Regions from separate parts of the Homo sapiens genome. Here all the other regions are linked to region 1. Evidence: fine-mapped expression QTL. A gene starts in region 1. Each other region holds a variant in brackets. All regions are shown on one strand. Distances are from middle to middle.

Region 1 (5,949 bases):
CCACCAACCCCACAGCCATCTCCCCTGAGGAGTACTTCGACCCCAACTTCAGCCTGGAGTCACGGAACATTGGCCGCCCCATCGAGATGTCCAGCAAAGTACAGAGGTGAGGTCTGAGAGCTGGCTGGGGACTTGCCTCGGGACAAGGGCTCTTGCAGACCCCTCTCTGGGCCTGTCATAGTTAGGGACCCACTCCCTCGGCTGGCTTCTCTCTGGACTCCACTCCTGGAGGGCAGGAGTCATGTCTGCCTTATCCATGGTCCTCAGCCCTTAGCAAGGGGCTTGGCACAGAAAACCGGTAGTTTGTCTTTGATGAATGGATGGTGCCACCCATGTATGGTTTTCTATTGAATTTCATGAGTACCTGCTGGGGCCAGCGTGGCACAGTGGGAAGGGCCCCCAGCGACGTGGCCTGGGAGTGGAGCGTCTGCCTTGGTGGAACAGAACAGTTACGCTCTTGCCTCGTGAGGAGCCTTGAGCAGGTATAGGCGGTAACAGCAGGCACAGTGCCTGCACAAGCCTAGCGCTCTCCCCACCATCTCAGGAGGATTCTCTTAGCCACCCAACAGTCGCTGGGATTCGAACCCTGGCAGTCTTGCCCTGGGGTGTGCTGGACATAAAAGTTTGGCAACACGTGAGCTGGTGACCAGCTCTGGGCTGAGGAGGAAAACGGGGCTGTGGGCCAGGCCCAGAGAGAAGCCCACAGCCTGGCACCTGGCCTCCTTGTCCAGACCAGATGAGCTGGTACGAAATCCTCAGGAGCCCCAGCCTGGGCCCAGGGAGGAGGGCAGCTTGGGCCACGTGGCCAGGACACCAGCTCCCGGGGGAGGCGGGCAGCGGCATCTGAGCAGAGCAGGGCACTCCAGGCCAGGCAGAAGGTGGGTAAAGGCAGCTGCCCACGAACCAGAGGGCAGTCCTCAATGGAAGGGCCACCAGCCGTGCCTCACCCATGTCCTGTGGTCGGCTGGGCAGGTTCAAGGCAACACTGTGGCTGAGTGAAGAGCACCCGCTCTCCCTGGGTGACCAGGTGACCCCCATCATCGACCTAATGGCCATCAGCAACGCTCACTTTGCCAAGCTGCGCGACTTCATCACTCTGCGCCTTCCACCTGGCTTCCCCGTCAAAATTGGTGAGAGGCTGGGCACAGGCAGCGGGAGGACCTCAGGCATGGCACCCTCCCTCAGCGCAGTCCCTGGAGAGCTGCAGGGGCCGGAGGCACAGGTGGCTCTCCGCCAGGGCTCAGGCGTGGCTGTCTTCTCACAGAGATTCCCCTTTTCCACGTGCTCAATGCCCGCATCACCTTCAGCAACCTGTGTGGCTGTGATGAGCCCCTGAGCTCCGTGTGGGTGCCGGCCCCCAGCTCTGCTGTTGCCGCATCAGGTACCCCAACGGGAGGAAGAGGGAGCCTGCACAGCTTTCTGGTCACCAAGCCCCGCGGGTTGAGCGTGGCCCCTCTGCCACCTGCCTAGGGAACCCTTTCCCGTGCGAGGTGGACCCCACCGTGTTTGAAGTGCCCAACGGGTACAGCGTGCTGGGCATGGAGCGCAACGAGCCCCTCCGGGACGAGGACGATGACCTCCTGCAGTTCGCCATCCAGCAGAGCCTGCTTGAAGCGGGCACTGAGGCGGAGCAGGTGGGACTTGCCCAGGGGGTGGGCTCTGGCCTCTGCAGCCACACGGCAGAAGTGACAGCTGTGGGCTCTGGTGGCTGCAGGTGACCGTCTGGGAAGCCCTGACCAACACCCGGCCCGGTGCCCGCCCTCCTCCCCAGGCCACGGTTTATGAGGAACAGCTTCAGCTGGAGCGGTGAGCCCCTCATGGGGCTGGCTGGGTCCCTGTCCCCCCAGCCCTGGCTTGGCGGGGAGGGGGATAGCAGGAAGGTGCTAGGACCCCAGGCCCTCTGCAAGGCCACCCTCTGTCAGCAGCGCTATCTGCCACCAAAGGTGGTGTGAGGGGTGGGGAAGCAGGGCCCTGCCTTGTCTCCTCTGCTTGCCACCCTGTCTTTGCCTTTGTCCTCCAAAGCCGGTCCCCAGCCCCTCGGCTTCTGCCCCAGCCTTGGCGCTCACTGGCCTGTTCTTCCCTCCCCTGCCCTGCCTGGAAGGGCCCTCCAGGAAAGCCTGCAGCTGTCCACAGAGCCCAGGGGCCCAGGATCCCCTCCCAGGACACCCCCAGCCCCCGGTCCACCCAGCTTTGAAGAGCAGCTGCGCCTGGCCCTGGAGTTGTCTTCACGGGAGCAGGAGGAGCGGGAGCGGCGCGGGCAGCAGGAGGAGGAGGACTTACAGCGGATCCTGCAGCTGTCACTCACTGAGCACTGAGCCATAGCCCCGGGAGGGCTGGCCAGGCCACTCCCTGCCCGCTTTTGTAATTTATTTATTTATAAACTCTCTGCTGCTGAGCTTGGGGCCTGGAGCCCCAGGAATGAGCAGGCAGGGGAGACTGAGATGGAAATAAAGAGACTGTCGCAGCAGGGCTGCTCTGCTCACTGGGCTGGAGCGGTGGGGACCCTGAAGGTGGGGCGCTGTGGAGAGGCACTGTGGATGGCGGCCTCAGACCTGGGCTTGAATCCTGGTCATGGTCCCCTTAGCCTATCTGAGCCTCAGTTTCTTCAGTTGTAAAATGAGGAGACCACCCCCCACCCTCCGCCCCTCAGGGCTGAAAGGAGCTGGCGAGAGTCACGTGTCCTTACCAAGCAGGCGTCCTGTGAAAGTCAGATCCCCTGTGCCCTGTCCCACCTGCTGGGGACCCGGTTCGTCCTGCCACCCAGCCTAGTCTTCTGGAAACCGGCCCACGTGCCTGCTGGGGAGGAAAAGCCTGGGTCCCCAGGCACCATTCACCTCCAGCTGGGAAGAGCCCCGACGCCGACCCCTGCAGCCAAGCCCAGGCCCTGGCCCTGACTGCGGCTTGTTCTCTGCGGGTGGGTTTGCGCAAGTCACTTCCGCCTGCGTAGCTGGAAGCCCTGCCCTGCTCGCCTCCGAGGTGGACCTGAGAGCCCCTCATGGGCTTCCTGGGTTATTTGTAAACCCCAGGCCGTTTTCCCCGGAAGCCTGTCTTCCAGTGGTTCCTGCGGAGTGGGAACGAGAAGGCCGACCAGCAGGGAGAAATGTTTGGGGTGGGGGCCCTTGGCCGAGGGCGCGCCGTGCCTGATCCTCTCTAGACCTGTCCCCCACCTCCCCACCTCAGCTCTGCCTCCCTAGGACCCGCCTCTGCAGGGCACAGGACGCTGGAGGCCCAGAACAGCTCAGGTGCTCCCGCTGGGCCGGCCCGGGCCGGGCGCTTCCTGGGAGGGGGACCAAACTCCCGGCCTTCAGCTCTTGCCCTCCGGGTCTCCGGGCTCCGCACCTGCGCCCGCCCCCGGCCTCGCCCCTGACCTGTGCCCAGGGGCTGGGCGGGCCGAACAGCGGAGACCGGAGGGGCGGGGCCCGGCCGCCCTGAGAAGCTCCGCGGGCCCGGCTGGGCGAGTGTCTGGCCCTTTAAGGGCCGCCCCCGAGGAGGTGCCAGGCCCGGGTGGCGCCGTCCGTCCTTCCTGGTCCTGCGGGTCCAGGACTGTCCGCGGGGTTGAGGGAAGGGGCCGTGCCCGGTGCCAGCCCAGGTGCTCGCGGCCTGGCTCCATGGCCCTGGTCACAGTGAGCCGTTCGCCCCCGGGCAGCGGCGCCTCCACGCCCGTGGGGCCCTGGGTGAGTGTGGTCCGGCCGTGGTGCCGCCCACGCAGTTGCTGCCCCGGCTTGGGAGCGCGTCCTGCCCGCCAGCGGGCTCCTCTCGAACGGGGACATGAGGAGGGGGCCCCGGGGCTCGGGCTGGAGGGCGCTGGGGGCCTCGAGGGTCTCTGGTACTGGCGCCGGGGCACAATCCAGAGCCCTGCGCGCCGCCCGGGCTGCGGAGGCCCCGATCTGAGCGCGCCCCCCGCCACACTCGGCGCCCACCCAGCCGACCTGGCCTTGGGCCGGGGCTCCACGGGGCCTCCCGGTGGGGCGTGGACTGGGGTGGGAAGACGATTGGCATCTGGCGCCTTTTCTGGCCTCCCCCAACTCTAGAATTCCTGAGAGAGGGGAGGGGACAGCCCTCCCCGCCCTCACCCTGCCCTGGGGCTGCTCTCTCCGCAGGACCAGGCGGTCCAGCGAAGGAGTCGACTCCAGCGAAGGTGAGCGCCACCTCCCCCACGCAGACACTTCCGTCTGCCCCGGGCCTGGCCACGGCCGTCCTGGGCTCCAGCTGCAGGGACAGAAAGCTCCCCGGAGGACGCGCAGCGAAGCCCACTGCCAAATTTGTGGGGCAGCGTTCCCGGTGGGGCCGGCTGGTGGGCTCGCGGTAGGGCGGCCTTTGCCTTCACCCTCCCCCTGGTCAGCTGGGGCTTCCTCATCCACTGCCCTGGGCTTTGGCTCAGGTGGTGGCCACGGGCCGAACGGCAGGAGGGCATGATGGGCCTGAGGACTCCTGGGTCCCCGACCATGTTCCCAGCAGCACTTGAGTTAAACAGGTGGGAGGGGAAAAGGAGCAGCCCCCTCTCCCCACAGATGAGCTAGAGTAGAGGGGCTGAGAGCTTGGAAGCCCCCAAGACTGGTTCTCAGCAATATTGCCAAGGGGCCGAGGGGTTAGAAATGCAGATGCTCAGGCCTCCACTCTAGACCTATCGACCGCGTGGGGGCCCATGAATCCGTGTAGACAAGGGCTGCAGGTGAATGTGATGCATGCTAGACTTTGAGAGCCCCTACCCTAAGGGGAATGAGGAGCCATGACAGTTGCCCACTGCCCTGCCAGGCAGAGCTTTGCGGTGCTCCGTGGGGCTGTCCTGGGACTGCAGGATGGAGGGGACAATGATGATGCAGCAGAGGCCAGTTCTGAGCCAACAGAGAAGGCCCCGAGTGAGGAGGAGCTCCACGGGGACCAGACAGACTTCGGGCAAGGATCCCAGAGTCCCCAGAAGCAGGAGGAGCAGAGGCAGCACCTGCACCTCATGGTACAGCTGCTGAGGCCGCAGGATGACATCCGCCTGGTGAGGGCCCATGTGGAGCTCCGGGGGGTGGGGGGAAGAGACACGCCTGAGGGCAGAATGGAGCCCTGTGTATGTGTCTGCTTGGGGAGCAATGGTGTGAGGGCAGGGGGCAGCCTGGGGAGTGTTGGGGTTACCCATATCCCAGTGACCCTGCTGTTTCAGGCAGAGATGTTTTGTTTTTTGTTTGTTTTTTTTTTGAGATGGAGTCTCGCTCTGTTGCCCAGGCTGGAGTGCAGTGGCGTGATCTCGGCTCACTGCAAGTTCCACCTCCCGGGTTCACACCATTCTCCTGCCTCAGCCTCCCGAGGAGCTGGGACTACAGGCACCCGCCACTATGCCTGGCTAATTTTTTTTGTATTTTTAGTAGAGATGCGGTTTCACCGTGTTAGCCAGGGTGGTCTCAATCTCCTGACCTCGTGATCCGCCTGCCTCGGCCTCCCTAAGTGCTGGGATTACAGGCGTGAGCCACCGCGCCCGGCCTGGGCAGAGATATTTTGACAGGGCGAGGTCATGGCTGCAGGTCTCTGGAAGGGAAAGAACAGGGGAGGTTTGTCCTGTGTGAGCCAATAGGGCCAAATTAGGTCCAAGGGGTGGGAATTCCAGAGGCATGTTTCTCCTCAACCAGTAGAAGACTTTCCTGATGATGTGAGCTGTCCCTAAATGGACCAGTGCACAAGGCAGGCTTGCTGGACACACACTGGGGGAGGGTGTGCTAGAGGGACCCAGGCAGAGGGGAGGAGGACTCCAGCCCCACGGAGGAAGGGAGTCCAGGTGGAGCTGGAGCGCTCATGCTCAAATACTTGTGGAGACAGCTCGCCGTCCTCAGCAAGACGTGGCAAACAAGATGCAGTGAATCTTTGGTAAAACTGAATTTACAACAGAAGTATCATCCCCTATCGTGAGATTTTGTCCTTAATATTTCTTTGGTGATAAACATTTCTCAAATGAAATGATAGCAT
Region 2 (5,949 bases), 80 kb after region 1:
CCGCTGTCCTCCCCTCTGTCAGGCTTCTCCCAGCTTTCTCCAGACTGTCTGGGCTCCCGCTCTAGGGGCCCCTGGGGTCAAAGGATGGACACCGCCTTCCCTGGGGCCATCCCAGTGATGGGATGTCCCATCTCACGGGCCTGCCATTCCAGCACCACTGGGAGAGTGCCTGCTCCGCCTCCACCAGCTGTGTGACCCCCACCAAGTCTCTAACCCTCCACACCTCTGTTTTCTCCATGTAAAACTGAATGAGGGACAACTGAGTGAGTATAGGTCAAATTGCTGGCACTTAGAAGCAATCAATGATGTTTTATTTATTTATTTATTTATTTTTGAGACAGAGTCCAGGCTGGAGTGCAGTGGCATAATCATGGCTCACTGCAGCCTCGACTTCCCAGGCTCAAGAGATCCTCCCACCTCAGCCTCCTGAGTAGCTACAGATGGATATCACCATGCCTGTCTAATTTTTTGTATTTCTTTTTTCTTTTTTTTTTTTTTGAGACAGAGTCTTGCTCTGTTGCCCAGGCTGGAGTGCAATGGTGCGATCTCGGCTCACTGCAACCTCCAACTCCCAGGTTCAAGCGATTCTCCTGCCTCACCTTCCTGAATAGCTGGGATTACAGGCGCCTGCTAATTTTTGTATTTTTAATAGAGACAGGGTTTCATCATGCTGGCCAGGCTGGTCTCGAACTTCTGACCTCAGGTGATCTGCCCGCCTTGGCCTCCCAAAGTGCTGCGATTACAGGCATGAGCCACCACTCCCGGCCAATTTTTTTGTATTTCTTTGTAGAAACAGGGTTTTGCCATGTAGCTCAAGCTGGTCTCAAACTCCTGATATCAAACAATCTGCCTGCTTCAGCCTCCCAAAGTGCTGGGATTACAGGCGTGAGCCACCTCGCCCAGCCAATAATGTTAAAGAATCTTGTTACCTACCCCTCATACCGTATCCCTCTGTCTTTGCTAATGGTGTCCTCTCTACCCACAATGCAGCTGCCCCTCGTGAGCTCCCCATGGCTACTCATCTAGACCCTTTGTTCTTCTGCCTTCTTCCTGAAGCCTGTCACTGTCATCCCAGCTCTGCTCCCCACCACAGACTTCACTCTCCAGGGCCCTTGCTGCTCTCCACTTTGTGTTATAAGTGCTCTCTAAGGACCCGTCTCATCTCTCTCCTCTTTTGTCCCCAAGAGATTCTTGTAGGACTTCAGTGGGTTGAAGAGGGCTGGAGGTGGGAAGGGTGGAGTCTCATGGCACAGTCAGCTCTGAAGGCATGAGAGAAACCAACCAGTCTTGACCCAGCCCCGTCCTAGGCTTTCAGGTTGTCTAGAAGACATGGGTGGTTTAGGTCTATGAAGAGCTCAACCACTTTCTTTTTTTTTTTTATTTGAGACAGAGTCTCTCTCTGTCACCCAGGCTGGAGTCCAGTGGCGTGATCTCGGCTCAATGCAACCTCCCCCTCCCGGGTTCAAGCTATTCTCCCGCCTCAGTCTCCCGAGTAGCTGGGAGGCAGGCACCCACCATCATGCCCAGCTAATTTGAGGCTCACCCGCTTTCTAGCACCCACAGCCATCTTTCTGAGGCCCACCTTGTGGTCCTTAACAGAGCACTCTGTACATATTTCCGTTTTAGCCTTTGACTGTTGCAAGATTTCAAAATGAAACAGGAACTTAAGGAGATATACAAAGGGCTATGATGCAGAGAAAGGAGAGGTCAGAAGAGGGAGACGTCGGGAGATTTTGGAGATACGGCAGGGAGAATTTGAGTGGCAAAAAGTGGGGGGCCACACCTGACCTGGAACCAGGACAGGAGCTGGGGAGGAGCTGGCATTCAGACCCATGGAATCCCGTCACCTCCCAAAAGCTTTTGGAAGCCCCTGCTATATATGCCTTGCTGAACAGTGTGGACCTACAGAGAAACACAGCCTGCCTGCCAGGGACTCGGGAGCTGGTGGGACAGTGGGCAAGATAACTTCAATACCAACTAGAGATATGGGCGGCCTGCCAGGAGGCTCAGTGCAGACAAGGGCACCTGGAGCAGGCCTCCTCCAGCCTCCAGCTCAGCAGGGAACTTGAGAAAGATCCCTGGATTCTTTAGCATCAGAAAGCCCAGATCTACCACTTATAAGTGACCTGCCTGGGCAACATAGCAAGATCCCCCCCTACTTCCCCAAAAAATTAGCCAGGCATGGTGGCACACACCTGTAGTCCTACCTACTTGGGAGGCTGAGGTGACAGGATTGCTTGAGCCCAGGAGTTCAAGGCTGTAGTGAGCTATTGAGCCACTGCACTCCAGCCTGGGTGACAGAGTGAGACCCCATCTCCAAAAAAAAAAAAAAAAAAAAAAAAAGTGAGCCTCTTAGCCTCACCAAACCTCCAGGGTTCGGTGAGGCCCAGATGAGATAATAAAGTAAAAGGGCTTTGCAAGCTCCGGAGCTCTAAGGAGACGGGAGAGTCCTCTGATCTCCCCACGGTGTAGGCTATCGCTCCCATTTACTGAGCTCTTCCCAATTCTCTGGCACTGCAGTGAAGCATTTGAATACAGCACGCAATCTCACATAGCCCTCCTGAGGCCGGTGCTGTTGTAGTTGCCATTTTACCATGGGTAAACTGAGGCACAGAGTTATATAACTTTTCCAAGTTACACAGGCAGGCAGCCTGGCTCTGGAGCCACCCGGCTCTTAATTAGTAGCCTCCTCCTCACCCTGCCCCTAGTTCCTAAAAATCTCCTCCCTGCCCCCATCTCCCCAGTAATAAGCCTGTCTCAGCCTGGGAGGATGCCCTCTCTGTCCCCTTCTGTCCCACCCCGCACAAC[A/G]TGAGCACAAAACTGCCCCCACAGAGGCCTGCCCAAGGCGGATCAGCAAGGTCTCTGTTCCCGAAGCTGGGACTGGACACGGTGTCTGTCTCCCTCTGCTGGTCTCTTAGGGGACAGCCCAGCCGGGATGCTTTCCCTGAAGCTGGTGGCACCTTATCTCTCCCCAACAGTGGATGCTGAGTATTGGGGAGGTTGAGGAAAAGGCCAGGGACACAGGTCAGGCTCTAACTTACGGGACTCCACGTTGCCTCTTGGGGTCCATGTTGCCAGAAGCCTGCCTCTAACAGGAGTGCAAAGGGGGGTCTTAGGGAGACCGGGCCACCTCCCTGATGCCTGCCCTGGGGGACGGGCCTCAAACAGCCTCCTTCCCCTTCTAACCCATGAATGGAGCCATCATCCATGGATGTATCTAAATCTTTTGTGAAGCTGTTTCTATTTCCAGCTGAGACGACATCTTGGGATAATGAGTTCCATCAGCGTCCTCCCCTGCTGGGTGAAGCACACTGCCTTTTATTTGTCCTAAACTTACCTCACTTGCGCTCCAAGGGGGCCTGTAATTCCAGTGTGCCAGGTTTTGGTGAACAAGCCTGAACTTCTCCCTTCCCATCCTCACTGTGGGTTTAAAAAAATTCATCCTGGCCGGGCGCGGTGGCTCACGCCTGTAATCCCAGCACTTTGGGAGGCCGAGGTGGGCGGATCACGAGGTCAGGAGATCGAGACCATCCTGGCTAACACGATGAAACCCCCGTCTCTACTAAAAATACAAAAAATTAGCCGGGCATGGTGGCGGGCGCCTGTAGTCCCAGCTACTCGGGAGGCTCAGGCAGGAGAATGGCATGAACCTGGGAGGCGGAGCTGACAGTGAGCCGAGATCGCGCCACTGCACTCCAGCCTGGGCGACAGAGCGAGACTCTGTCTGAAAAAAAAAAATTTCATCCCATCTCCCCTCCACCTCCAGCCCTGCAGACTCAAAAGACCTGGTCCCTCATCTGCGCACAGTGCCTGGCAGTGTGGGCACATCCATTATCTCATGCCAGGCTCCAGCAGCTTGGGAGGAAGGCAAGGGCTCACATTCTCCTCTCAAGGCAGAGGACACAGAGGGCCCAGAATCATGGGGCCAGCACGTGGTGCCGCTGGAGGCAGCAGTAGCAGCAGCCTCTCTCCAGAGCCTCTTCCCCATGGGCTGACTCTTCTGACCTTAACCAAGAGTCTTCTTTTTTTTTTTGAGATGGAATCTTGTCCTGTTGCCCAGGCTGGAGTGCAGTGGAGGGATCTCTGCTCACGGCAGCCTCCATCTTCCAGGTTAAAGTGATTCTCCTGGCTGGGCGCAGTGGCTCACGCCTGTAATCCCAGCACCTTGGGAGGCTGAGGCGGGTGGATCATGAGGTCAGGAGATCGAGACCATCCTGGCTAACACAGTGAAACCCCATCTCTACTAAAAATACAAAAAGTTTGCCGGGCGTGGTGGTGGGCGCCTGTAGTCACAGCTACTTGGGAGGCTGAGGCAGGAGAATGGCGTGAACCCGGGAGGTGGAGCTGACAGTGAGCCGAGATCGCGCCACTGCCCTCCAGCCTGGGTGACAGAGCGAGACTCTGTCTCAAAAAAAAAAAAAAAAGTGATTCTCCTGCCTCAGCCTCCTGAGTAGCTGGAATTACAGGTGTGTGCCACCACGCCCGGCTAATTTTTGTATTTTTTTTTAGTAGAGAAGGGGTTTCACCATGTTGGCCAGGCTGGTCTTCAACTCCTGACCTCAAGCAATCTGCCTACCTTGGCCTCTCAAAGTGTTGGGATTACAGGTGTGAGCCACCGTGCCTGGCCAAGAGTCTTCTGAATATTTGCCAGTTTCTGGACAGCAGGCCTTTTCTCTGTAATGTTTCCTTGCGAGACTTTCCTCCTGGGATCCTTGTGTAGATTCACCCTAGCTTTGTCCAAGCTGATGGTTTGTTTTGTCTCCAGTCCCGGCCCAAGGATACTGTAAGGATGACTCGAGCTGGAGGGGCAGGACGCAGCAATCATAGTCGCAGCAGTGCTAACAGCAGATTCTAAGAGCTGCGTAAATATTAAGTTACTCCTCACAACAGCCCTTTGAGGTGGAAACAGGCTTGGAGAACATAAGCAACTTGTCCATTTTTGCACAACTTGTTAAGTGATGGAGACTGCGGCTAGGCTGGATTCAGACCTACACGGGCTGGCATCCACAACTGCATTCTCAACCTCAACAGACAATCGTGGGTTCAAGTCCCGAAACCTCTCTGAATTCCGTACTCTTCAGTCATTCAGCACAGACTTATTACACCACTGCTGTGTGCCAAACATCATTCTGATTTCTGGGAGAAATGCCAGGGAACAAGAAAGGCAGGGGCAGAGCTTGGCTGGGGGGCTGGCAGCACTTGGAATGCCACAAACTCATTACAAGCAGGGCAGGTACCCTGCCAGCTCAGAGCTGCCTTGCCTGCCTGGTTACCCCACAGTAACCATACAAATGCCAGTCCCTGTGTGTGCATGATGAGAAGAAAACAAGCCAGAGTAAACTCCTGAACCCTAAACTCCTCTACTCCTCTGCCCCTTCTGACTTTTAGTTACCCTGATCTGGAAAAATGCCAGCCATGAGTAATACTGTCTGTGCTCCTTTGTCTGTAAGGAGGGCTGCATGGGGAATCCCATGGTGGGACAGAGCAGTGCCTGGCAAATGAGCCCCACCAATGGCTTCTCAGCAACTGTGCTTTCCTGGCCAGCCCGTGCTCTAACCTCACCCCTCTCAGACTGTTTCATCCTCCAGGAAGCTCTCCCTCATGCTCCTGACCAGGTCTTCCCCAGGACATATTCGCAGAGCCCACGTCATCATCATTCCTGATCCTTCTCAAAGGTGTAATTTCATATTTACCTTGATGATTCTTTGGCTAATCTCAGTCTTCCCCCACTAGACCCCCGCCCTCCCCAGCTCAGGAGACCGGACTCTGCAGAAGGTACCAACCACCCACACTTCTGCTCAGAGACTTGGCACTGGCCATTCCCTCTACCACAGCACTCCTTCCCGGACATCTGCGCTGTCCACTCCCTTGCCTCCTGCAAGTCTTTGCTCAAATGGCGACTTCTCAGTGAGGCCAACCTGGCTGTGCTAGTTAGAATCGAAGCCCTTC
Region 3 (5,949 bases), 1.0 Mb before region 1:
GCCTCTGCCTCTGCTCTCTCCTGACATAGGCTACCCACAGCATGGCAGGAACAGAACCTGTAATTTCCACCCCTACCACCATCTGCTCCTCTCTGTCTTCCATCTCAGGAAATAGAGCTACCATTCAGCCAGTTGCCTAAGCCAGGCACCAGCACGGCAAGCCTCTTCTTTTTTTTTTTTTTTTTTGAGATGGAGTCTCACTCTGTCGCCCAGGCTGGAGTGCAGTGGCCAATCTCAGCTCACTGCAAGCTCCGCCTCCCGGGTTCATGTTCATGCCATTCTCCTGCCTCAGCCTCCCGAATAGCTGGGACTATGGGTGCCCGCCACCATGCCCGGCTAATTTTTTGTATTTTTAGTGAGACAGGGTTTCACTGTGTTAGTGTTAGCCAGGATAGTCTCGATCTCCTGACCTTGTGATCTGCCCGCCTTGGCCTCCCAAAGTGCTGGGATTACAGGCATGAGCCACCGCGCCCAGCCGCCTCTTTTTTTTTTTTTTTTGAGATGGAGTCTCGCTGTCACCCGGGCTGGAGTGCAGAGGCGTGATCTCAGCTCACTGCAACCTCCGCCTCCCGGGTTCAAGTGATTCTCCTGCCTCAGCCTCCTGAGTAGCTGAGATTACAGGCACATGCCACCATGCCTGGCTAATTTTTGTATTTTTAGTAGAGACGAGGTTTCACCATGTTGGTCAGGCTGGTCTCAAACTGCTGACCTCGTGATCCGCCCACCTCAGCCCCTCAAAGTGCTGAGATTACAGGCGTGAGCCACCCCGCCCGGCTGTCTCTTCTTTTTTTGAGACCGAGCCTCGCTCTGTTGCCCAGGCTGGAGTGCTGTGGCGCAATCTCCGTTCACTGCAGCAACCTCCGCCTCCAGGGTTCAAGCGATTCTCCAGCCTCAGCCTCCCGAGTAGCTGGGATTACAGGCACCCGCTGCCACGCCCATCTAATTTTTGTATTTTTAGTAGAGATGAGGTTTCTGCATGTCGGCCAGGCTGGTCTTGAACTCCTAACCTCAGGTGATCTGCCTGCCTCAGCCTCCCAAAGTGCTGGGATTACAGGCATGAGCCACCACGCCTGGCCTGTTCTTTCTTTAAAACTTTGTATTATGTAAAATTTCAGCTTGTAATCCCAGCACTTTGGGAGGCTGAGGTGAGAGGATCACTTGAGCTTGGGAGTTTGAAACCAGCCTGGGCAAGATAGTGAGAGCCCATCTCTACCAAAAAGTTAACAATTGGCCAGGTGTGTTGGAGCTCACCTGTAGTTCCAGCTACTCAGAAGGCTGAGGTGGGAGGATCGCTTGAGCTGGGAGGTCAAGAGGTCAAGGCTGCAGTGAGCCGTGATTGTGCCACTGCACTCCAACTTGGGTGACACAGCAAGACTCTAGTCTCAAAAATAAAATAAAATATCTTTCTTTCTTTTTTTTTTTGTTTTTTGTTTTTAGACAGAGTCTCGCTCTGTCACCCAGGCTGGAGTGCAATGGTGCAGTCTTGGCTCATTGCAACCTCTGCCTCCTGGGTTCAAGTGACTCTCCTGCCTCAGCCTCCCGAGTAGCTAGGATTACAGGTGTGTACGACCACACCTGGCTAATTTTTCTAAAAAATAAAATAAAATTTCAAACATCACAAAAGCAGAAAGATTGGTGCAGTGAGGCCCCTTCTACTCAGCACCCAGTGCTGTGATGATCATCCACCTGCAACCACTCTGGGCTCCATCCACACTCAGCCCCACTTATTTGAGCTCCAACTGGATTATTTGAAGAAGACCTAGAAGCTGTAGCATTTCGTCAGCTCCCCTCACCCGCCCCACCACGCGTGATATCGACCACCCAAGATTCTACTCAGAACACAACACACCCCACCTCCTCTCCACCCCAAGCCACCTTGCTCCAAGTGCCCAGGATTCCTCCCCCATGACTCCGACAGGCCTCCCACGCCCACTTACTCCTGCGGCCTATGCAGAGACCTCATGTAAATCAAATCACGTCCCCATTGGTTTCTGTCTAAAGTTCTCTCCCACCAACTCTCAGCTCGCTTTGCATTTCCTTTCGGCCACTCACCATAAGTTACAATTATTTTCATTTATTTATGCACGAGTTTCTTTATCTGTTTCTTCTATTAGAATTAAGGCCATGGGGCTGGTCATGGTGGCTCACGCCTGTAATCCTAGCCTTTGGGAGGCCGAGGCGGGCGGATCATGAGGTCAGGAGATCGAGACTATCCTGGCTAACACGGTGATACCCTGTCTCTACTAAAAAAAAAAATACAAAAAATTAGCTGGGGCGTGGTGGCGGGTGTCTGTTGTCCCAGCTACTTAGGAGGCTGAGGCAGGAGAATGGTGTGAACCTGGGAGGCGGAGCTTGCAGTGAGCCGAGATGGCGCCACTGCACTCCAGCCTGGGCGACAGAGCAAGACTCTGTCTCAAAAAAAAAAAAAAAAAAAAAAAAGAATCAAGGCCATGGGAGGCGAATAGTTACACGGCCAGACCCTTGAGTTGGTTGGAATAATTCCAACTCTCCACTACAACCTGAGAAGCCCTGGGCAAGTCACTTATTCTCTCTCTTCTTCAGTCTTCTCATCTGCAGAATGAGAGATGACAATAGAACCTATTTACTTCAGGCCGGGCGCGGTGGCTGACACCTGTAATCCCAGCAGTTTGGGAGGCTGAGGCGGGAGGATCACGAGTTCAGGAGATCGAGACCATCCTGGCCAACATGGTGAAACCCCATCTCTACTAAAAATACA[A/G]AAATTATCCAGGTGTGGCGGTGTGTGCCTATAGTCCCAGGTACTTGGGAGGCTGAGGCAGGAGAATTGTTTGAACCTGGGAGGTGGAGACTGCAGTAAGCCAAGATCACGCCACTGCACTCCAGCCTGAGTGACAGAATGAGACTCCATTTCAAAAAAGATAGATAGACAGATAGATAGATGATAGATAGATAGATAGATAGATAGATAGATAGATAGATAGAGATATATACTTTTTTTTAAATTCATAGACAGGGTTTTGCCATGTTGCCTAGGCTAGTCTCAAACTCCTGGGCTCACAAGATCCTCCTGCCTCAGCCTCTGCAGTAGCTGGGACCAGAGGTGTACGCCACCATGCCCAGCTATATATGTTTATATTTTGTAGCGATGGGATCTCCCTATGTTGCCCAGGCTGGTCTCAAACTCCTGATCTCAAGCAATCCTCCCACCTCGGCCTCCCAAAGTGCTGGGATTACAGGTGTGAGCCACTGTGTGCCCAGTCAAATTTTTTTTTTTTTTTTTGAGGCAGAGTCTCGCTCTGTCACAGAGGCTGGAGTGCAATGGTGAGATCTTGGCTCACTGCAACCTCCACCTCCCAAGTTCAAGAGATTCTCCTGCCTCAGCCTCCTAAGTAACTGGGATTACAGGCATGAGCCACGATGGCCAGCAATTTTTTGTATTTTTAGTACAGACAGAGTTTCACCATGTTGGCCAGGCTGGTCTTGAACTCCTGACCTCAAGTGATCCACCTGCCTTGGCCTCCCAAAGTGCTGGGATGACTGATGTGAGCCACTGCACCCGGCCTATAAATAAATATATATTTTTAAATATTTATTTATTCCCCATCTAATCTTATAGACGGCCTTATCTAAGGCTCTCTTATTTATTTATTTATTTTTGAGACGGAGTCTTGCTCTGTCTCCCGGGCTGCAGTGCAGTGGCATGATCTTGGGTCACTACAACCTCTGCCTCCTGGGTCCAAGCGATTCTCCTGCCTCAGCCTCCCAAGGAGCTGGGACTACAGGCATGTGCCACCATGCCTGGCTAATTTTTGTATTTTTAGTGGGGATGGGGTTTCACCATGTTGGCCAGGCTGGTCTCAAACTCCTGACCTCAGGCGATCCACCTGCATCGGCCTCCCAAAATGCTAGGATTACAGGCAGAAGCCACTGCACTCGGCCAATAAATATTTTCTTAAAAGATACTATGTGACCGTGCTTAAATCAGGGTCTCAAGCATAGGAAGTGCTCAATAAAGATTGCTATCATCATCATTTGCATTATTATAAATTACAAGTGGACGCTCCCTCTTACAACATACGCACACTTCACCAGCAGCCAGCGCAGTGCCTGGCACACATAATGGATGTCTAGTCAATCTGTGTTAAGTGAATGATTCCCGATCTCCTACCAACACTTCCAACTTCCTGGGGTTAGCTGGGTCCTGAGGGCCAAGTGGACCACGGCCCAGACCAGCCAAAGTTTTCATTGCTTGGCCACACTTGCAGTGGAGCTTTTCTGATCTTTGGTTAGTGGGCTTGAGAACTTAGGGCACCCAGGGAAGCATTTGCCAACTACCTAATCCAGCAAACCATGGCATTCTATGTTTCCTCCTTGGATCCAGACCCCAGACCACTAGACCCCTAGAGCTTCCCCGAGGTGGCAGGCCCAGGTGCATTCATTTTTTGTGAGTTTCATCTTCCCTCTTACATCACACCTGCTGCCTTCTGTTCTTCAGAGCCCGTGAGTATGAAGTCACTGCTGAGATGGCCTGGGATGTATCTGGAAAGGGCAAGGAGGATCAGGCATCCAGCCAAAAGTTGGATACACCCTGAGTGAGGATGGGGAAGGTGCGCTGCTGCCCTTCTGGGTAAAGGTCAAAGCTCCTGGAAGTCAGATTCAACAGAGACCAAGACAGACAGATTGGTTAAACTGATGACTACATATCAAATGTAGCTGTGCCACATCTGCTCCAAGGAGGCATTTCTGTCCAGAATATCAGCTGAGACTGAAATTGGCTAGTTCTCAGTAACCCATGGTCACAGTCCAAAAGATAGATGTATTTTTCTTTTTTCTTTTTTTCTTTTTTTTTTTTGAGACGGAGTCGCGCTCTGTCACCCAGGCTGGAATCCAGTGCCGCAATCTCGGCTCACTGCAGCCTCCGTCTTCTGGGTTCAAGTGATTCTTCTGCCTCAGCCTCCCGAGTAGCTGGGATTACAGGTGTGTGCCACCACGCCCCACTACTTTTTTGTATTTTTGGTAGAGACGGAGTTCCACTGTGTTAGCCAGGATGGTCTCGATCTCCTGACCTTGTGAGCCACCCACCTCGGCCTCCCAAAGTGCTGGGATTACAGGCATGAGCCACTGCGCTTGGCCATAGATGTATTTTTCTTCTCTTTTTAAAAAACATATAAAATAAAACGGACCAAAATACGAATACTTTTTTCAGTAGAATAGTTTCAATTTATGTGTTATAAAAGCACAATACAGGCTGGGCGCAGTGGCTCATGCCTATAATCCTAGCACTTTGGGAGGCCAAGGTAGGCAGATCACTTGAGGTCAGGAGCTCAAGACCAGCCTGGCCAACAGGGCAAAACCTTGTCTGTACAAAAAATACACGCCTGTAGTCCCAGCTACTTGGGAGGCTGAGGTGGGAGGATCGCCTGAGTTTGGGAGGTTGAGGCTGCAGTGAGCCATGATTGTACCACTACACTCCAACCTGGGTGACAGAGTGAGACCCTGTCTCAAAAGAAAAAAGCACAATACATTATAAAAGACAATAACATTGTGCTATAAAAGACTGCAAAAGTGGGCCGGGCGTGGTGACTCACACCTGTAATCCTAGCACTTTGGGAGGCCAAGGTGGGCAGATCACCTGAGGTCAGGGGTCTGAGACCAGTCTAGCCAACATGGTGAAACACTGTCTCTACTAAAAATACAAAAATTAGTCGGGGGTCGTGGTACGTGCCTGTAATCCCAGCTACCGGGAGGCCGAGGCAGGAGAATTGCTGGAACCCAGGAGGCAGAGGCTGCCGTGAGCCGAGATCGTGCCACTGCACTCCAGCCTGGGCAACAGAGCGAGCCCGTCTCAAAAAGAAAAAAAAAAGAAAAGAGAAAAAAAGACTGCAAAAAGTATAGAGACTATTTTAATAAAGATCAAATTCCTGTTGGGCATGGTGGCACAAGGCTATAATCCCAGCATCTGGGGAGGCC
Region 4 (5,949 bases), 70 kb after region 1:
TGACAGCTTCCACTCTGGGCAAAGCCATGCCCGTGTCTCAGGCAGCAGGAGGGAAAGCAGCGTGGGGTGAACACCTGCGGTTTAGTCGTGAGCTTGGGAACCCAACACAGCTCGCCTGCCTCCTGAGGAGAGTGCGTGGTGGGCTTCCTGGAGCCCTCATCCATCCTCCCTCAGGCTCATGTTGTGCAGGTGGACCCCGGCCACTGGGGCTGTGTCCTAGGTCCCCCTCTCCCCCTCCCCACCAGTCCTGGCCCCCAGCCCGGCCCCCGCCCCAGCTCTGCCTCTGGCTGCTGCCCACTGATTGTTTACATCCCGTCTTCTCTGTGTGTTTATAAATCCGGCTGAGCACGTGAGGAGCTAACGAGTACAGCTCACGTTTCCTGCAACAGCCCCCCACCCCCGGCCAGCCCCTAATTCCATCCAGATCCCTGGGCCCTAGGAACCAAGGCTCTCCTCATGAACACACACACACACACACACTCTCTCTCTCTTAGCCCAAGGAAGTGACTGGCCACCCAGACAGCTGCACAGGCAGGCGCACCCGTGAGCACATGTCTTTAGCCACTTTAGCCAGCTGCCCCTCAGTCCCTGGCCTGGACACCCCCAGGCTGACCTTTCCCAGTGAGGGTGAGAGTTCAGCCATGCAGATGTGCCAGGGTGCTTAGGGTGGTAGGACAAGTCAATGGGAGTCTCTGCACCTGGGACTATAAGAGCTACGCTAAGAACTGTAAGCCCTAAATGTTGCAGCCAGGGAGGCACTGCAGAGCTCCAGAGGTGGGGCATGGTGGCCTCAGGCTGGGCTGAATATGGGAGCCAGGAGGAAAGGCCAGACCAGGACCAGCGCTGGCTGCGGTTGGAGGGGTCTGTTGAGGGGAATTGAGGGATGGAGTGGGTTAGGCGGGCAGAGTGGGTGAGGAGTGGGCTAGGGATGGAGTGGGTGAGGTCCAGGCATTGTGACGGTAGGAAACTGCCCCAGGGGCGTGTCCTGACCTACCTTCCCAGGCAAAGGCCCACAGAAACCCATCTTCCTTCCACCCTCTGGGCTGCTGCTTTCCCCTCTCTTACTTATCTCCCTTCTGCCTTTTCCTTGGTTCCTTTTACCCCAGGCCACTGAGAAGTAGCTTGGTGAGTGGGGACACATGGGCCTGGGAATTGGGAGACCTAGCTTTGCCACCAATTCGTCTGGTGACTGTGGGCTTGCACAAGGAGGTCACATTATGCAAGCTCAATTCCTCCTAGAGGAAACACACGGGGCTTCATCTCTCCTCTCCTCTCCAGCATCCCCCTTTGTGCCCTTCTCCTCCAGCCTAAATGACAGAGGTCACTGAGGCCCAGGGGAAGAAGCTGAGGGTGGGCCAGCCCCACTGCCTTATGAAGTCAGTAACCAAGCAAGCGAGACAGGAGTTGGGCTTTGGCTGGAGTGAGAGGGTTCCTGATTGTGCCACAAGAGGGCCATGGGTGTGCTCAGGGAGGCCAGCGGGGAGCCAGGGGGGAGCCCAGCAGCCCACTGAGAGCCAGAGGCAGGAGGAGCAGTGAAGGAGGAGTCCAGGGCAGTGGTGGGTGAATTGGAAAGGGTGTTGTTATCAAGAGGGGCGTGGGGGGGGAGGAGAGTGCAGGAGCCAGGTGTGCACAAGAGGTGGGACGTGGGGAGGAATGTGAAGTGTCAGTGAGCCAGTGGCTGGTGTGCAGGGGTGGCGTGCAGGGGTGGTGTGCAGAAGTGTGACGGACAAGAGTGTGGGTCTGTGAATGAAGGGGACAGGGAGCCATTGCACCCATCAGCAGTGTCACTTCTGGGGCTGCCGGGTGACAATTGCCATCTCTGCTTCCTCCCCGGTGGAGCGTGTGGCTCCAGGGCAGCGAGGGTGTCTGAGCTGGCCAGGAGCGCGTCTGGTCTGTTAGGGGAATATGTACTCGCATCCTGTCCGGTGTGAGGGGCAACGTGTGCTCCCGAGCTGTGGCGGAGGTCAGTCGGGGTCAGTGAAAGCACAGAGGTGTCCCTGGGTTAGGGTCAGAGAAGGAGGACCCAGTAGAGCAGCGTGCCCAGTGCCCCCCACCCCTAGCCTCTCTCCAAGGCTTAGCCTCCACCCGCCCGTCTCCCCTCCTCTCCTGGTAGCCCCTCACACCCCGGGGGGAGGGCCAGGCTGGGAGCTGGGGGA[A/T]CAGGGGTCCTCTGGGATTGGGAGGGTCTGTGGGGAGGGCTCCAGAAGCCCAGCACGGAGTTGTGGAAAGGAAGGCGGGTGGGGAGAGCAAGCATGAGGGGACCTCTGGCGAGCCCCGGGGACTCTTTCGAAGGTTTCCTTCGAGGGGCTCGGCCGGGAAGCTGCACGGCGGCGGTTGCCAGCTGGCCCTCCCTGCTGGCGGTGACCTCTCGCTCTGGGACCCCTCCCGGCGCTGCGCCTTCCCCCTGTGTGGCCTCGGCGCCCCCGGCCCCGCCCCCTCCCGCTCCCGCCCGGTCGCTCCTTCCCCGCGGCGGGGGCGGGGGCGGGGGCGGGGGCGGGGTCCGGGGCACCGGGCTCCGGGCTCTGCCCGGCGCTGCCCTTTCCCGCGCGTCAACTCCCCTCCTGCCCGGGCTGAGCGGCTGCTCCCGCCGCTCCCTGGCCAGTGACAGACTTTTTCCTGCCGGGTCCGGCCCGGCTGCGCCAGCCCCCCGCCAAACAATAATCACTCCCAGGCCACGGTGGCCCGGGGGACTCGCGGCCGCCGCCCGCCGCCCCTACCTGCCGCCGGCTCCCCGGCCGTGGGCACCATGGAGGGTTCCGGCCGCGCGGCGCGTAGCTAGGAAGCCGCGAGTCCCGCGGCGCGGCTCGGCCCGTCCGGCCCGGCCCAGCCAGGCTCGGCGCTGCCCTCCGCCCTCCTCTCCGCCGCCCGCCCTTCCTCCCGCCCGCCCTCCTACCCCTCCCGGCGGGCCGGGGAGGGAGAGCGGCGCGGCCCGAGGTGTCGGCCTCCCCTCGCCTCCCGCCGCCCGGCCTCGGGCTCCCCCGGCCTCCCTCCCTCTTCCTCTCCCAGCCCCTCCTCCCACCCGCAGCCTCGCTCCCCGCCTCGGACTCTCTGGCCCCGACTGGTGCGCGGGGCTCTGGGGCTGCGGCTCCTACGGCCCGCCTCGCTGGGGCTCCAGGTTGCCGCCTCCCCAGGTCTGCGATCGTCCGGGCTCCCCGCCGCTCCCGGCCACCTCCTGGCCCCGCCGTGCGGACTCCAGGAATGCCGCGTCCCCGCCCGGCCCCTCTCGAGGGCGCCCAGCCGTGCCTCCCCCGGCCCGAGCCCAGCTCCCTGGCCCGGCCCCGGCGCGGGGCTCCCGGGGGTCAGGGCAGGACGGGAACCGGATCTCGTGGCTGCTTGGCGGGGCGGGGGTCGGGGCCTCGGCCGCCTGGCTCCTACCTGCTCGGAGGTCCATGGGGCTGGGGCCGGGCCGGCCGGGTGCGGCTCCTCTCCCGGAGGCTGGCGGAGTGGGAGGGCGAGCCGCGGCTCCGGCGAAGCTTTAATAATCCCATCCGCCAGGCCCACTCGCAGGTTTTTTTCGCTCGGTTTCGGATTTTTTTTTTTTTTCGGTGTGGGACATTCTGCAAACTTTTTTTTTTTTTTTCTGACGTGTAAAGCTGTAACCACAAATTGTAGCGGCCCTCCCCGGGGTGGGGGTAGGAGGGGGGAGGAGGGAAGGGAGGGCTTCTGGGGCTCCCTCTCCCTCCCACAGCACCGAGGGGGGGTGAGGTGAGGCGAGGCTGTGGCGGTACCACCCTGGGCCTCCTGGGGGAGGGGGCGGGGAGGCCATCAGTCCGTCTGAGGACTCCCAGGAGCCGGGGGACAGCGCCGGCTTCGGGTGGGCTTCTCCCCAGGCGTTGGCCTGGGACACCGCCCCCTGCCCCCTGTCCCCTGCCGATGCGGGGTCCCTGATCCAACCTACCTCTGCCTGTGCGAGGTCCCTGCTCCCACCCTACCTCTGCCTCCTCATCTCTAACCTTCCCTCCTCCTCCCCCTTGAGTAAATGCAATGACACATTCTCCCAAATGCCAGCGAGCTGGCCTGGGAGCAAGTGATGGTGTTTTTCCTGCTGCCCTTTGTCTGGGCTGACCGCCCCCCCTGCCTATTGTCCCGCCGCTTGTCCCATTTCCAAAAGCTAGAGCTAAGCGAGGCGCTGGGGCTGGGGCAGGTGACTAACCAGCTCACAATGCCCCCTGCGGGGGAGGAAGAGGGCACTGCAGGCCCACTGCCCGGCCCAGAGGCGAGAAGAGGCCACTTGGCGGGACTTTTTCCCTCAAGTTCACAAGGTTCTTCATTCTTCCTCCAGTGACCAGGGAGAATGTACATGGGTGGGGGATTTGTAATTCATTAATCAGCACGAGGCAACGGACCAGTTTCAACACCACAGGCTTCTTGGGTGACTCAGCGGGAATGCTCCGATTCAAGGCGATGGACCGCCCGAGCGTCCCCATTTGTGAAATGTTTCCCCATGAAGACCCTGGCATTCTCCTTCCTTTGGGGTTTCGGGTTGTTGGTTTTTCCGGTGGTGAGGTGGGGGTGGCTTAGCGGTGAGGGCTCCCCCTCCTTCCCGCAGGCCTGGGTTGGGATTTGCTGGGCAGGATACCTGGGGGTATGCCTGGACCCTCCCAGAGGGGGTCCCCTCCTCCCTCTCCAAGGGCTGCCGGGGAGAACACGCTCAGAGGAGGCAGCTCTAACCCAGGGCTGGGGACTGCCCTGCTTCATGATTTTCCTGGGGGAGAGTCATGTGGTCCCCAAGGCTTGGGTGCCCTATAGCCACACCACCAATTAAATCACTGGGTAATAAGTTGCTTTTGTTGTTGTTTATTTATTGTTTCAAAGTGGGAGAGGCCAGTGGTGGGCCAGACCTGGAAGGTGATGCCTCTCCCTGGAGTGGCATCAGAGATTTGTCTCCCACTCCTTCCTGGTGCCCCTGGAATGGGAGGGCACTCTGCCAGTCCAGCCCCAGCGCCTCCAACCTGTGGCCTGGGCAGGCATCCTGATCATGGCCAGTGCTGGGTCCCAGGGCAGCTCTTCCCTTCTCTGTACCGCGAGCACTGAGGTGGGGGGGTGGGGGGGGTGGGGAAGAAGTTTGTTTTCAATTACCTCACTGGAGTGGGACAGACTTTGTTGTTGGGTTGGTTTTTTTTTTTCTCTCTCTCTCTGTCCTTTCTTCCTTTTTTTTTTCCTAAACAAGGAGAAAAAGGGCTGGGAAAGGAGAGCTGGCTTGGGGTGGGGGGCAGGGGACTTTGAGGGACCTCAGTAGCAGCTCTGATGAAAACTGCCTGGAGGGACCCTTGTGAAAAGTGCTCAGGGCCTACCTCTGCCCCCCCCACCGCCCCCGCACCTCCTCCCTGCCCCCACCAGCCAGGACTCTGGAGTTTCAGTGACATTCCTGATGGATGAACCCAGTGATTTCTTGATGCCCATGCCAAGGTCAAGAAGGCAGATGCCCATGGGTGCATGGCACGGAGGCCAGCCAGGAGGTCCCCCTAGCTGCTACCCTTTCAGAGGGAGGGGGCCAAGAAGGAGGGGAGAGGGAGAAGGGGAGCCGCTTCAGCCTCTCCCTCCGCCTCGAAGCCGCTCCTTGTGGAGTCTGCACAATGTGGTTTGGATTTGGCTGAGCCCCTCAGCACCTTATAAAGCACCTTGCTGAGTCAGGGAGAAAGCAGCCCCAGTGTCGGGGGAGCGGAGGGGAGGGGGCGCTGAAGAAAGGGGCGGGGGCGAGAGAAGAGGGGTGAGACCAGAGAAGGGGCAAGACTGGGAAGGAAAGAGGAGACACAAAGAGGCAAATGGGTGGGAGTGAGAAAGAGGGGAGGAGGGAGCTGGGAGGAAGAGGGGGAAGCAGCGGATGCGGGGAGAGGAAGACACTGAAGCAGAAGGTGGGAGTGGACAACGCCATCCCCAGCACACATCCACCTGGGGCAGCCAGAAAGCACTGGTTTGCAGGAACTGAGGGCTGCAGCTCTGAAACAGGGA
Region 5 (5,000 bases), 61 kb before region 1:
GAGCTCTGGCAGTAACAGTGGTAACAGTGAGAGGTGACCCTGAGGGGAAGGGTGTGGACTGAAACAAGGACAAATGTGGGCCAAGGTGCCTAGTGTAGCCCGCAGAATGAGTTAAAGCCTTCCCTTTGGCTGGCGCCTTCAGAAGTCTGCCACCGGGAGCCCTCAGGGGGCTGGCCCTAGGTTCTCCTATTGCAGTGGTGGTGGGAGGGAGACAGGGCGGGGGCTGTGGCTGAGCTCTCCTCCCTGGCAGGGCCTCTTCCAATCGCGAGGAAGAAAGCAGTTGCTGAACACACCCCCTCCCGGCTCTGCAGCAGAACGGCTGGGCCCTCTGCCTGGCTCGCTCACTCTCGCTCGGCTCCCCCTCCTGCCATCTTCCGTTGCAAAGCATTTCTGGGAGCTGCATGTGGGTGACGCAGCAGCATTGTTCGCAGGCACAGGAAGCCGCGGCTGAGCTGAAGGGCTCGAGAAGGAGCCCAGAGCGCTGCACGCTGCTCCCTCTGGGTAGTCTGAAGGGTCAGAGCTGGACTGCCCTGCCCTATGTGCTCTGGGAGATTCCAGAATATTCAAGTAAATCCGGATTTTCCCAGAGGCAGAATATCTAACTCCTTCAGGAGAACTTCCAGTACAGAAAACAAAACAAAGACGCTGGGGAAACTTCACCAAGAGCCTCGGCAGCTCCAGAGCGACGGGAAACGAAAGGTCAGGGGGTCGATCGGCAAACCCTTTCTGGTTTGGGGTGCGTGTAACTATAGGGACTTTTGTCTCAGTGAAGAGGCAGGAGAAACTGCCTGCCGGGCGAGTCCAGGACAATGCTATGTTACTTCGTGTTGCTTGAGCCGTCATTGCACTTGTTCCCTCACCTGGTGGGATGTGCTTTTGAATTGGGTTGGTTGGCTTTTGAGAATCCTTTCCCTCTCTGCCCAGGCACCTTCTGTTCTCTTTCCCTTCCTGTGATCTGTAGGGTGTGGGCTTGTGTTTAAATGTTCTCCCGAATGCCTGGAGCCGAGATAGGCGTCAGCCTTTCCCGCACTCCACCCCCGCTCTCCTATCCCAAACCCCCTCTAGTGAAGGGTGGTGGCTTCTTTATATGGTTTCTTGTAGGGCCTCAGCTGGAGTCTGCCTTTTTTGATGAAAGCAGGGCGTGCTTGGTTGAATGGCCCCAGCAAAATAAGGCTTGGAAGGAAATCTGCATTTCCCTCCACACCCACACATACCCCAGTAACTGAGTCTTGTATGTGTGAACAGCTGCCACCCCCCACACACACACCGACACAGTTTTCCGCCTACCCTTCCCTATTCCCCACAAAAATCTTGCAGGTAGAATTAGACTGCTTTTGGTGAACAGTTAAGTTCCTTTTCTACTCTTGAACAATCGCAGATCTTACTGTGCAGTCTGTTTTGCTGAAAGTGGAAAGTCCCCGTTTGTGGACAGCTCAGTTCACTTCAGCAGAGGAAATGGGCAGAGTCCTACTCTTCGTCAGTGCGAAGTGGGGGAGGGGAGCCATGCACTCCCTAGCACACATTTTGAATGGACCTGAATTTTTCACCCTAGGGAGATTAGGAGCCCATACCAGAGCCTTGTCCCACGTGGCACCACACCCCGCCTCTTCACCCCCACGCTGTATGGTACTAACAGAAAAGGATGCCATAGCAACTTGAAGTAAATAAAACATCCGCAGATGAAATGAGTTTGGGGGAAGGTGAGAGGCATCTGGAGACTTGGCAAAAGGGGATCTTAGTAGAGGAGCTTCTTGGCTATGAGTGAAAGGGTCTTTCTGAGACCCAACTTTGGGATTTGGAGCAGGATCCTTAGGTTAAGAATGAAAATACATAAAAGTCCTGGTCTCCGGGACAGAGCACACAGGATTATGAGAAAAATTATTAGCAATGGCCCAGACTTGCTAACCTGTCCAGGATCAGAGTTTAGTGTTTGCCGAAACAGTTACCATCCTGTACATACATACCTAGGGTAGCCAGAAAAGGAATCATGTAACTTGTCTCCCAGATTTATTTTGCTGTTGGTGTTGCTTTAGGGCTCATAAGGTCAGAAGAAGAAGGATTCCATTATACTAGAAGATTTGGGTTTCAGGAGTTTCTGTCTAAAACGAAAAGATTTGGCCAGGTGCAGTGGCTCATGCCTGTAATCCCAGCACTTTGGGAGGCCGAGGCAAGCGGATCACCTGAGGTCAGGAGTTCGAGACCAGCCTGGCCAACATGGTGAAACTCCGTCTCTACTAAAAATACAAAAATTAGCTGGGTATGGTGGCAGGTGCCTGTAATCCCAGCTACTCAGGAGGCTGAGGCAGGAGAATAGCTTGAACACGGGAGGCGAGGCGGAGGTTGCAGTGAGCCGAGATAGCGCCACTGCACTCCAGCCTGAGCAACAGAGTGAGACTCCATCTAAAAAATAAAAATTAAAAAAAATATATTTGTTTCAAAATAACAGTCAACCAGTGTGATTCACTTAAGTGGCATTTTCTCACTGTAGCATTGTTCGTAAGTCATTTAAATTTTATTGGTAATGCCATGAGAACTTTTGCCCCTAAGATTGTTCCTTTCCCCCATTTAGAGGAATAAAGGCAAATAGCAGACTCTGTGGGTGTGTGT[ATG/A]TGTGTGTGTGTGTGTGTGTGTGTGAGAGAGAGAGAGAAAGAAAGAGATTTGAGATTGAGATTTCTGTAATCAGCCTTAGAAGAAAAGAGCCCTGGGTTGAATCTGCACATTAGGCTGTACCATTCATCTCATTAATTCTGTATTAGCAAATCATTTTTATGCCACTTGGTTCACATCTGAGAAATGAAGGCAATTACCTGATAATATTCACTAACTGGTGTAGAAAAGTGAAGAAGCAATAATAAAGTTTTACTGTCATATGTAGAACTGTATGAGAAGTAACACTTGTCACCACAGTAAGTTAGTTGTTTCAGTGTGTTAGTATAATTAGTACACAAGTAAGGGATTGGGAACAAAGGTGAGTTTGAAGTCCTTTCTGCTCCCCCACCACCACCATCCGCCCCCAGTAGAGATGGGTCTTGCTGTGTTTCCCAGGCTGGTCTCAAACTCCTGGCTCAAGTGATCCTCCCACCTCTCACAGGCATGAGCCACTGTGCCCAGCCTCAAAGTTTTGATAATATTGCAGCAGCCTAAGTTTGAGTTTTCTCCTTCACCTTTGATTTATTTGTTTTCCAGTGAGTCTCTATATGAAGGGCAAATACAGACAGTTGCCACCCTGCCTCCCTTGCTACTCAAGGGTACTGAGGCAGAGTCTGGATGCTGTTCAGGGTGGTTGGCTCTTTGTTCACCCTGCCCTGATTTTTCCTTCTTTTCCCTCCTACCCTTAGATTTTGCTGGAGGAGCTTGCCAACAGCGATCCCAAGTTAGCCCTCACTGGAGTTCCTATAGTACAGTGGCCAAAAAGGGATAAGGTAAGAAACTATTTTCCTTGATCTTTAGGCTGCTTAAGCCTTTTGTTAGTTGATCATTACCATTCTGGGGAAAACAAGAACAACTAGAGGCAGATGGCTTTTGGTGCATTAATACAAACTGACAGAAAATCATTATTCAGTTCTGTTTTGACTCGTAGGTCAGGGTAATTGGCTATCTTTGGAGGTGACCTCTCTTAACAGAACTATCAAACTGGGAGGCCTCCCTCCAGATTCAGATGCCAAATTGTGCATTTGTGCATCCGCTTCTATCCTTGTGACCAGTTACTCAGCTATCTTCACAGATATGATTGAAAGCCAGTTAAAATAATTACATAGATATCTAAAAGGAGCAGAGTTTTTCTTTGACGTAGTGAGATCATTCTCTCAAAAATCCCCTTACCTTGGACTTTGCAGTGTGGAATGGAAAAGAGAAGAAAGGGGCCGGGCATGGTGGCTCACACCTGTAATCCCAGCACTTTGGGAGGCCCAGGCAGGTGGATCACCTGAGGTCAGGAGTTCAAGACCAGCCTGGCCAACATGGTGAAACACCGTCTGTACCAAAAATACAAAAATTAAGCCAGGCGTGGTGGCATGCGCCTATAATCCCAGCTACTTGCAAGGCTGGGGCAGGAGAATCACTTGAACCCAGGAGGCAGAGGTTGCAGTGAGCCGAGATCGCACCATTGCACTTCAGCCTGGGGGACAAGAGCGAAACTGTCTCAAAGAAAAAAAAAGAAGAAGAAGAAAGGAATTACTGTCAGCTAATAAATTGTCAATTATGAATTTTCATGCCTCTTCAGTTTAGATCCTGTATAATTTTTTTCCCCATACTGTCCTCTATCAAGGTTATGTATTAAATAAATGATAGCATTCTGATCCTGGCTGTGAATTTGGCAAATAAATGAGGCTTCTGTTTGTTGTTCCCTAGCTGAAACTTGCAAAGCCATCACATTCCAGGGGTGTTTAGGCAGAATATAAAGGTATGGAGTTGAACAGTATATTTAGAGAATCACCTCCTCGTCCCTAGTGGGAGGAGTCCTGCTTGGCCTCTGCTTGGCCACAGGTGACTGCCTTAAAACAATTCAGTCATTTCTGGTTGTTGAGTATTTTGTGTCAGAAAAGTGTTTAAGATATGGTAAGAAATTAAAGTAGTAGAAAACATGGTCCTTGTCCTTGAAAAGGTCACCAGCAGGGTAAATGCAAATGCTAAGAAATGTGTTCCACACTTAAATATTATTGAAGTGTCTGCTATCTACCAGTTCGTATGCTTGAATTTGGAGTACTAAAGAAATGAACAAGACTAGTTTCACCTTAAGGGAGTTTACTGTCTTCTTTAGGAGTATAATCTGAGAAGTCAGGATGAGGAAATATTGGAGGGCTCCTGGAGTGACTTCGGTACATGGCACTTGATACAGAAAGCTCAGGGAGGGGTGAATCTTAACAGCTCTGCAAAAAGAAAGGGAAGCAGCTGAATTAGTAGGCCAAAGGGCTAGGACAAGGGCTGGTAAATTTTTCTGTAAAGGTCAAGATAGTAAATACTTTAGGTTTTGTACACCACACAGTCAACAATTTCTCAGT

Direction of the effects. Positions count from the first base shown, and alleles are read on the strand shown. Sizes are in standard deviations (SD) of each study's normalised expression. Not every link is listed here.
As copies of T replace A in region 4, the expression in minor salivary gland of the gene that starts at base 3,513 in region 1 goes down (moderate effect, 0.64 SD a copy in GTEx).
For the expression in monocytes after LPS of the gene that starts at base 3,513 in region 1, allele A in region 5 goes with a higher level than allele ATG (moderate effect, 0.66 SD a copy in Quach 2016).

The links.
Region 2: its variant is fine-mapped to the expression of SSH3 in whole blood (TOPMed, PIP above 0.99).
Region 3: its variant is fine-mapped to the expression of SSH3 in fetal neocortex (Walker 2019, PIP 0.95).
Region 4: its variant is fine-mapped to the expression of SSH3 in minor salivary gland (GTEx, PIP 0.99).
Region 5: its variant is fine-mapped to the expression of SSH3 in monocytes after LPS (Quach 2016, PIP 0.95). The same link has a PIP of 0.9 or more in monocytes after Pam3CSK4.

What each region holds. Positions count from the first base shown.
Region 1 is chr11:67,300,018-67,305,966 of GRCh38, forward strand. SSH3 (slingshot protein phosphatase 3) reads left to right here and starts at 3,513. Exons shown (of 14, transcript NM_017857.4): 1 at 3,513-3,674; 2 at 4,101-4,138; 3 at 4,756-4,990. The coding sequence starts at 3,609. It overlaps ANKRD13D (ankyrin repeat domain 13D), which reads left to right. Exons shown (of 15, transcript NM_207354.3): 10 at 1-106; 11 at 973-1,130; 12 at 1,265-1,381; 13 at 1,471-1,634; 14 at 1,715-1,806; 15 at 2,102-2,467. The coding sequence ends at 2,315. RefSeq lists enhancers at 2,663-3,180, 3,181-3,700.
Region 2 is chr11:67,379,828-67,385,776 of GRCh38, forward strand. All of the region lies in intron 2 of LOC100130987 (a long non-coding RNA gene), which reads left to right. Among named protein-coding and RNA genes, the nearest start is that of RAD9A, 9.2 kb to the right of the region's middle. RefSeq lists enhancers at 1-268, 1,113-1,162. The variant A/G (reference allele first, on the strand shown) is at 2,809.
Region 3 is chr11:66,300,911-66,306,859 of GRCh38, forward strand. No RefSeq gene overlaps it. Among named protein-coding and RNA genes, the nearest start is that of TMEM151A, 12 kb to the left of the region's middle. The variant A/G (reference allele first, on the strand shown) is at 2,738.
Region 4 is chr11:67,370,152-67,376,100 of GRCh38, forward strand. It overlaps CLCF1 (cardiotrophin like cytokine factor 1), which reads right to left and starts at 3,447. Exons shown (of 3, transcript NM_013246.3): 1 at 3,373-3,447. The coding sequence starts at 3,388. All of the region lies in intron 2 of LOC100130987 (a long non-coding RNA gene), which reads left to right. RefSeq lists silencers at 2,836-3,175, 3,736-3,785. The variant A/T (reference allele first, on the strand shown) is at 2,157.
Region 5 is chr11:67,239,671-67,244,670 of GRCh38, forward strand. KDM2A (lysine demethylase 2A) reads left to right here. Exons shown (of 21, transcript NM_012308.3): 13 at 3,339-3,422. Among named protein-coding and RNA genes, the nearest start is that of GRK2, 24 kb to the right of the region's middle. RefSeq lists enhancers at 372-431, 622-701, 1,282-1,451. The variant ATG/A (reference allele first, on the strand shown) is at 2,608.